Regions from separate parts of the Homo sapiens genome. Here region 1 is linked to region 2. Evidence: fine-mapped expression QTL. A gene starts in region 2. The other region holds a variant in brackets. All regions are shown on one strand. Distances are between the middles of the regions. Region 1 overlaps ABCD3 (ATP binding cassette subfamily D member 3). Region 2 holds the start of ABCD3 (ATP binding cassette subfamily D member 3).

Evidence for each region. PIP is the estimated chance that this variant, and not a neighbour inherited with it, causes the effect.
Region 1: its variant is the best candidate, but not a certain one, in a credible set for the expression of ABCD3 in lung (GTEx, PIP 0.73).

The regions. Positions count from the first base shown.
Region 1 is chr1:94,515,780-94,520,180 of GRCh38, reverse strand. It overlaps ABCD3 (ATP binding cassette subfamily D member 3), which reads right to left. Exons shown (of 23, transcript NM_002858.4): 23 at 1,518-3,129. The coding sequence ends at 3,052. Among named protein-coding and RNA genes, the nearest start is that of F3, 24 kb to the left of the region's middle. The variant G/A (reference allele first, on the strand shown) is at 2,534.
Region 2 is chr1:94,416,502-94,420,902 of GRCh38, reverse strand. ABCD3 (ATP binding cassette subfamily D member 3) reads right to left here and starts at 2,514. Exons shown (of 23, transcript NM_002858.4): 1 at 2,315-2,514. The coding sequence starts at 2,424. RefSeq lists enhancers at 1,923-2,062, 2,534-3,325 and a silencer at 2,393-2,772.

The DNA.
Region 1 (4,401 bases), 99 kb before region 2:
TGAACCCTCTGTTAAGTCAGGGATGGTCTGCAATTAACCATTATACAGCAATGAAAGTGAAGGAATTATGGTCACACTTACCATGGATCAATCAGCCTCACAATACTGAGGGAAAGAAGCCATACACAGAAGGGTATCTAATATATATAAAGTCCAGAAACAGGCAAAACCAATTTATGTGATAGAAGTCAGGAGCTAATAATTGGAAGAGAACAAGAAGGAGCCTTTAGTGCTGTAACAATGTTCTATTTCATTTGGTGTTTGGGTGTGGTTACCAGTGTGTATGCTTTCTTATAAATTTATCAATGTTTTTGTACATATACTACAATAAAATGTTTACAAATTTAAAAAATGATTTAACTACATGAGGGGATGTGGCAGAAACAAAGGTGGTAGGGAATGTCTAAAATTGATAAATCAAGAAATGGCTATAAAGGCATATTGTTTAAAAAAATGAAATGCAATTACACCAACTAGAAGAGTTTAAAATCGTTGCTCCTAAGGTTTGGAGGGGATTGCTTTTCAGTTTTTTTGGCACTTTCTTAAAGTGACATGCATATGTTATGTATATGGAAATGGTCAGAACATTCCAATTCTTCACAAAGGAAAAATCACTAATGTAGGTTTAAAAAAAAAGAGACAGCTTCCTGCAGCTAACAATGTCAAAGTCCATCTGTTAGAAGAAAATTCATTCTGCTTCTCAGCACAAATTATGATTTTAAACACCAAATTTAAAAGTTAAAACTTTACATAAAGTAATGCCAGATGCTATCATATCACCGGTTTTAAGCCAAATGTTAATCATTCAGAAAGGGGAGAAAGAGACAAATGCTAGATATATTTTATTCTATTAATGCAAAACAAACTACCATTGCTGTTTCATACTTATTTTCTCATTATATAAAAAGTAAAAACTTATTATGAGAACACGGTGATATGTCTTGGCATGCAGCGTGGTGCTCATGGATGAAAGTTCTTATTCTTTGGTTTATTCTTCGGATTAAACTACCATTTCCCACTGCAGTTTCTGGAAGGTGTTAATAGGAATTATGTAGAAAAAGATGTTCCGTGGTCAATCATGTTTTTGAACCAATGGATTTCTTTACTGTGGGTCTTCGAAGAACCACTATTATGTTAATGTGATTCTCCAGAAGGATCTTCCTCTGTGCCTCAAATGGTGAGGCACTGTAATATTTGTTACATAAAAAAGAAAATAATTAAGAAAAAAAGCCCAAATTGTTGTTGTTGTTGTTTTGATGGCAAGAATCATAACAAAAGCAATTATAAGGCAGCTAGGAGAATACTTCTACGAGTAGGTTTAAGGTAACCCAGAAATCTGAAAATCTGAAACTTTCCCATGCCTTAAAATCTTTTCCAAGACGAATAGTATCTTTTAAGGTCTCCTGGCTGTTTGGTAGCATTTGTCAGGTACACAGATTTTACTGAACTTTTCTAAAAGAGAAATTCATTCAATTAAAAACCACACTTGGCAAAACTTTAAAAAAGAGACACTGTGCTAAAAGCATTTTCTGAATTTATTTTTGTGTTTTTCAAGTCAAGATTAAACTATCTATGTTTTCAAGTCAAGGCTGAATTATAAATGAACTTCTCAGTATTTAGATACCAGAATAAAAAGAACAAGCAAAGGTTGTATAGGATATCTGAGTTTTTTTTTTTTTTTTTTAATCTGAACAGAAAATAAGTATACAAGTTCGCTAAACAGAAGTGGTAAAAATTGAATGTTATGTATTATGGAATTCAGTACATCAGTTTACTTCGGTAGCCAGTGATTGTTATAGTTAATTCTGCAAAAAAACAAAACCAGTTATGCAAAAACAAGAGTACAAAATGCCCCTTTCTGAAGCTCAGTTTGAGAAACTGATTTCGTATCTAGCTTATTGATTATACTCAGTTTCAATTCTCCCTGTGCAAATAATACATAAAGTCATTAATGATGATTTGATGAACTGAAATCATCTTCGCTTAGGATCGTTTGACATCATAACCCAAATATAAAAAAGTTATTCAAGATTCACAGAGATAAAACAGTGCCTCGGAAACATAATTCACCCATGTATATATAATAATTTTAGAACATACTTTTTAAACATAAAATCACAGTCAAAGACAGTGATAGCATTGCATACTCAGTGCATTATTTCATGTAGTGCCTTCCTATGGCTCATTTGGAGTTTAATACCAAATAACCACCACACTTCTAATGAATGGGCTTCTAACACACACAAATTTGTCTAATTCTCTTAAAAATCTAGAACTCTTATAAGACCTTGAGCCTGGCATGTTAAGGACTTTGTGTTTTAATATCCCAAACATTGGGAAGATTAGGTGTGATACATGGTAACCCCTCCTTGTAAGCAAGACTGCACATATACTTTAAACAACTCAATACTGCAGACTGAGAGGGGTACATTTATCATTTAGTTAAGGAAAACCAAAATGGCTTTTCCTGGAGTCAAATGCACTCCAAGACACACACAAGGAATGAGTATTACTGTGGCAGCTAAAGAAATCT[G/A]CCACTGTATAATAAACGCTGTTATGCAATGATGTTAAACATTTAAATAATACATTATGATTTGTTTCCAACTACCACAGGGCACAGGAAAATGAAACTGAAGACTATCTTGCTAGAACAGGACAAATGATGACCCAGTTTTAAATAGGGTTCTTCACTGAAGGAAAAGATAGAGCCATAAAAGTCCAATTAGCTGACTTCGAATGGTTTACATCCCAGGATGAATCAGGTTACAGTGATTGAAGCCCAATTTAATTTAGGCAGGTTTTTAACCACAAGAATAAGGACATTCTTAGTACATATTATTAATTAAACCAACATATACACAATTAGCAATATCCTATATAATATTAAATGTTTTAACAACTTGTTCTCCATTATTCTGTATCTAGTTAATTTGTTGCTTTGTTTTTTTTTTTAAAAAAAACTAAGCTCAACTTTATTTTACAATGTACTTTGCCTTTCTAAGTATATTCTGTAATTATTTCACTGAAGCAGGTATAGTTCTCCAGATTTCTCTAAGAGCCAAACTCAACTGTATCTTCTGTTATCTGTTTGAATTCATAGTTGCCTCTGCCATCCATATGCAGGTAGTACTATGGGAAAGAAGGGGGAAAAAAAGTCAGTAACTAAGAGTGAATATAGTACTGTCTTTTATGAAAAGTAAAATACAGACTTCCTCATTATTTTAAGGGAGCTAAATCTATAAGCATCCCACAAATCAGAATGCTTCCGTAACTCCATGACCAAGGATCTCAGCTACCAGTAGGTTAAACTGTGCTAAATGCAAGACTGTTCCATAGGTCAGTCAGTATTGTTTCCTGTAGCCTGATTTCCTAATCAGCTTGAAATCTCCAGCTTAAGGCTTTTTATTTGTTTTTAATTTAGTAGAGGGGAAAAAGAGCTATAAAAACTGCCGATATATCCTAACCTCTGAAGACACAACAGCAGTTACAAAGCCTTCTGTTTTTATTTAGTGGCTTATTTTCAGAAAGCTTTCTGAGTTTCCATTTTCTGTATTACTATTTCTTAGCTATCCTGGCCCCTCACATTCTAGTTGTGTTCCCCTCCTTCACATGATCACTGGCGTGATGATTATTTTGCTACTTGTCTATACCTCCAAAAGAAGAGGAAGGGTGAAACCCAAATGCTCTCAATTCCTCTCAATGTCCTATGGCTATAATACTTATGAACTTCCGAGAAAACATAAAGGCTTGGCTATATTTTAAATGCCTTTGATTTCTAGTTATTCAATTTCCTGCTCAGTTCATGAAAAATTGACAAGTTATAATATGCCATAAAATAATAAAAGCTATCTTTAAAAGTCACACAGTTATATAGAATTTCACTGAATTTTATTAAGTACTTTCATATAGGCTACCTGTCTAATTTTCATGGTAATCTAAGAGATAGGAAGGTAAGGCTCAATAACTTCATTATACAAAGGAAGCAACTGAGGCTAGAAACTTTGGTGCCTGAACCCAGGCTCTCTGACTTCAAATCCTATGCTCTTCATTTTATCACTTGTAGACTATCATCTACATCCTAAAGTTCTTGAAGGTAAAAACTGTAATTAATTTGCATCCCTCATGACACTTAGCTCAGTATCTGGCAAAAAAAGGTCCTTAATCAGGTATGTATTTTGTGGAACAAGGCACCTTTACCATTATTCCAATTTTTCTCAAATCCTTGCTTTTACCTAAAATTTCTATATCATTTAGGAAGGAAAAGAAGGAAAGAAGAGAAGAAAGGAAAGAGGGAAGGGGGAAAGACAGAAAGGAAAGAAGAAAAGAAAGGAAGGAAGAAAGGAAGGGAGGGAGGGAGGGAGGAGGAAAGAAAATAAAGAGAATTAAACTGGGTTTACTTTC
Region 2 (4,401 bases):
ATTCTAAAACCAACCTACTATTAACAACATAGACAAAAGAAGGCCAAGTAGCCACAGTTTCCTTAATTAAGCACCAGATATTAAAATTAATCAGTTCTGTTACCAAAGATATTCAAAAGCCCACTCAAATATAAAGTTAGAATCTTCTAATCTTCAAACTGTGATACCAAAGGTGGTGACTAAAAGATATTTGTAAGCTTCTGGAAGTACAATATCTACAAAAATACACTCAATACCATTTTTAATGGTTTCAAAATAGTTCAATCATTTCACCTCAACAATTTAAACTTCATGATTATCTGCTCAGAATCTGCAATCTCCTCCAACAAAATACTGTGTAAAATAGAGATTTTCCCCACTCATCCCAATGCAAAAGACTAATAATAATCTTTTGTTCAGTACATCTCCTGCTAAAGAATTTAATCCCCACAAAAGCTCACAAAGTTTCTCAAAAAAAAATTTTTTTAGGCATTTTACAATGGCAAATGAGGAGCTAAAATTATTTAATAAGACAAATTCTATTACATTATTTTACTTCTATCGCTACTATTTCCCAATAGATTCTGTTTAAAATTTCCCTTAGCAATAATCTATGGTCTTACAAACTGGTTTAGTAGTTAGGTGGACTGTGACTGGATGGGGGCATGAGGAGAATTTCTGGGGTGCTGATAATGTTCTGTTTCTTGATCTGGGTGCTGATTACACGAGTGTGTTCTACTTGTAAAAATTCTTCAAGCTCTATGTGTACTATATGTATGTGGCATGTATGTGATACTATATCACATATACATATAATCATAAAAGTAATCCAGAACTTGTAGGGCTGTCCTCGAGTCCCCTCCTCCATATTAAAACACCTGTTCTATGCCCTGAAACACTTCTTTGCAAAAACAGAATTCAAGTTAAAGGACCTAACATCTTCTTTCTACTGGCATGTTCCCAGGTAACAGGTAACTTCTATTTGCAACTGGGAGTTCATACAAACCAACAGAAAAACTTGCTTTTTATTTTCCCAAATTAATCCTTTTAAAAGCAAACTGAATAGAAGAAAAATGAGTAAGCGCTGTTATTGCCCAGACTATGCTGCAAATCATTTTCAACTCTGTTAAATGGATTTAGGAAGGAAAAGAAAGATCATCACTTCAGACTCTAGTAAGATAAAAACAGAAGGCGGCTAGAAAGAACTTAATGGAAAGGGTACTATAAACTAGAAGTCTATTTGTGTTTTAGCCCAAATTTTACTACTAATTAGATATTGTAGGCAAATCAAACACGGGAGGCAACAGTACCTGCTCAGAGGAATGAATGAAATAAAATTCATGAAAGTAGTATGTCAAGATTTAATACGAAATATTCAATGACTGGCAAGAACGCTTGGGAAGTAGCCTTTTCTCTTTCACTTGTCCAGCAAATAAAAATTGCATGTATGTGACATACATACCTGTATGTCGCAACCGTAATTCAGCTCTCTCTTTTTTACTTTTTCTGAACTGATAACCTCCCAAAGTTAAATCTAAGCACTGAAATTCTCCCGCGGTGGAAGCAGTGGCGTGTCATTAAAAAGGAGCTTGATCCTCACCTAAACCACACTCTCATCTTTCACCTACAGAGCCCAGGAAGGAAAACATTTCCCTCTAAGTCCGACAGAACCGATCCAGCCTTTCCGGATGAAATGCCACCGACCAAATGTTCACCGACCAAAGGGTTCACCGACTCCAAGGGCTCACCACTTTAGACGGCAATCCTGCCAAGTGGACCGGGAATAGTTTCATAGAAGCCACCCTCGCGACTTTCAATAGCAGTTAGTCGGGAATCGAGCCAAACCTCGTCCAAGTGACTTAGACACCAGCCTCCAGCCTGGCGAATCCAATCCCCATCCTCAATCACACATCCACGTCCCCAAAACAAATCCTTCACGGTCTGAAGATGAGATGGCAAAACCAGAACACACCCAGAAAGTTGACACAGAAGGGGGTGATGTAGGGAAGGGGGTGGGGGACACACCGCATCCCCCTCCCACCCCCAACTGGAGGCCGCTGCCTGAGTGCTGGCTGGGCGCCGGTTCGCCCGCGGGCACAGAAGAATTCGCACTCCCGGGGTGGAGCGAGGTCGCCGGACAGGCCAGCTGGGACCGACGCCGTCGTGGCGGGGACTCGCGGACACCCTGACATTGAAGTCCCACGGCAGTCGCGGTCGGCCCTCTCTCCGCCCGACCCCGTCGGGCAAAGAGACCTGTCGGCCGGGTGGGGAGAGAGAGCGCGCGGGGAGCGCCCGCTCCAGCCCGGGAAAGCTGCACGGCTACGGGCCTTCTTACCCGTGCAGGCCGAGGGCGCGGCGCCGCTTGTGGAGCAGGCAGAGCAGCAGGAACGCGGCACCAGCCAGCGAGGAGTTTCGCGCCGTCAAGTACTTGCTGAAGGCCGCCATGGCACTGCCGGTACCAGCGAGCCGGCGAGGGGACGCGGCGGCGGCGGCGGCGGCGGCTACCTTACTGCACGCAGCGCGGGGGAGACTGGGAGGAGAGCAGAGGGCGGGGCCGGCCGCGCAGGACCGCCCCCTGGCTCGCGCCGCCGCGCCGCCCGCGCTCTGGAGCCCACTTTGTACTTTGGCCCGGCGGGAGCGCGCTCGGCAGCCTCCGTGGGCGGAACAGTTCCCGGGACGCGCTCTGCGCACGCGCGGACTCCTTCAGGGTCTCCGGAAACGCGGCGCGGAGGAGCTGTTGCTACTCAGCCCTGCGAGGCGTCAGTGCTGCCCCTGCCTCACCCCTACCCTCCCACTCTTCGCGCGCACACCCCGGCTTTCACAATAACTGGATGAGCGGGCCTGGCCTGCAGCGACGACCTAGTGGGCCCTGCCTCTCCACTCCCGCGGTGATGTACCGTTACCACCCTCTTAAAGGAGCCCAGGAAGGAGGCGGACGGCCCCGTCACAGAGCGTGTAGGGAAAACACAGCACAGTGATTATCAGGACGAAACCAAACAATCGGAACTCCGCAGAGGTGTAGGGAGATGTGAGGAGAATGACACAGATCAAAGAGCTTTTTCCAAGCCAGTATTTTCCAAACCGCGGGTTATAATCTCTAGCGCATTGTGAAATTGGTTTGGTAGATCGGGATCATCACCCTCCGTTTTTAATAAAATTGAGAATAGAACAAAATAGAAAAGTTTCACAGTACATCACGTAGTAAAGGAGTTGTTTAGAGAAATTTCGATTTCAGTGTTTTGCACGTATGTATCGCCAGCGGCGATGTAAAATGTATGCAGATCTGGTCAGAAAAAAGTTTGAGAAACACTGTTCTTTGCAAAGGGACATTCAGAAGTAACAATCGTGCGTTGTATTAATGCTGGCCTCACTCCCAGAATCAGAAGGGCTTTGCAGATTACAACATTCTTCTCCTGTCTGACCCTATGTTGCAGGAATTGTTATCGCCAGCATTGAGCCTAGCATATATACAGTAACAGTGAATCGCTGTTTTCAGCTGAGGAAACTGGAGAAAAGCAAGTGTGTCAGAAAATAAGCTCATAAAACCTCGCATAATGCACATACATATTAAAGTAGCCTACAAAGTAGTGGTGCTGTGCCCTAGGTGTTTTCTCAATATAAATGAGCTGTTGCCTAATACAGGTTATGAGGATCACAAAGACGAGGTACAATAATGGCATGCGTATAGAGGTGCTCAACAGTGAATTCTAAATTATGCAGAACTGAAGCTCCTACTAATTCACTATTTGTCATGTGGACATTTTCATTACCTGGAGGGACAAAAGGTTTTGGCCCTCTGAAAGTTAACTGAAAACCGCTGACATAAGGCAGATTAATAGAAGAAAAAATTAATAGGAGAAAAGGCATACAAATTTAATGTGTATACATGGGAGCGTTCAGAATGGAGACCCAAAGATACTTGGAAAATTGTCCATTTTTGTGTTTAGGTTCAACAAAGTATGGACAGCTATGTAGAAATGTGATTGGACAAAAATGGTATAATCTAATGCTAACAGACTGAGTGGGGACACCCAGCAAGGCCTGTCTAGATTCTTCTTGGCCTTCTGAGCACCATTCCTTCCTTCTGGGTATAGGGCAGGAATGGAATGGAGCTCTTAACAGCCTACAGTCAAACAAGGCAGGTCAGATAATTTCTTTATGGCCAGATTTTACAGAAAAAGGGGGAGGGAAAACTAGCAAAATATGTTTAGGCTTTTATGGCTGGCTTTAGGGGATAGAGGTTCTGGTTTCTACATCTTGTCTTGAGGAATAGGGATCCTAATATCTATGGCTAGCCTAGGGAAATACGGGACTGAGAGACAGGAGGGCCAGAGTAGGGCAGAGAACTTTTGCTACTGAGACCTTCATTTTGGAGTATTGTGTTGTGAGCCCCAACGACCTCACATAATTTACGTAATTAAG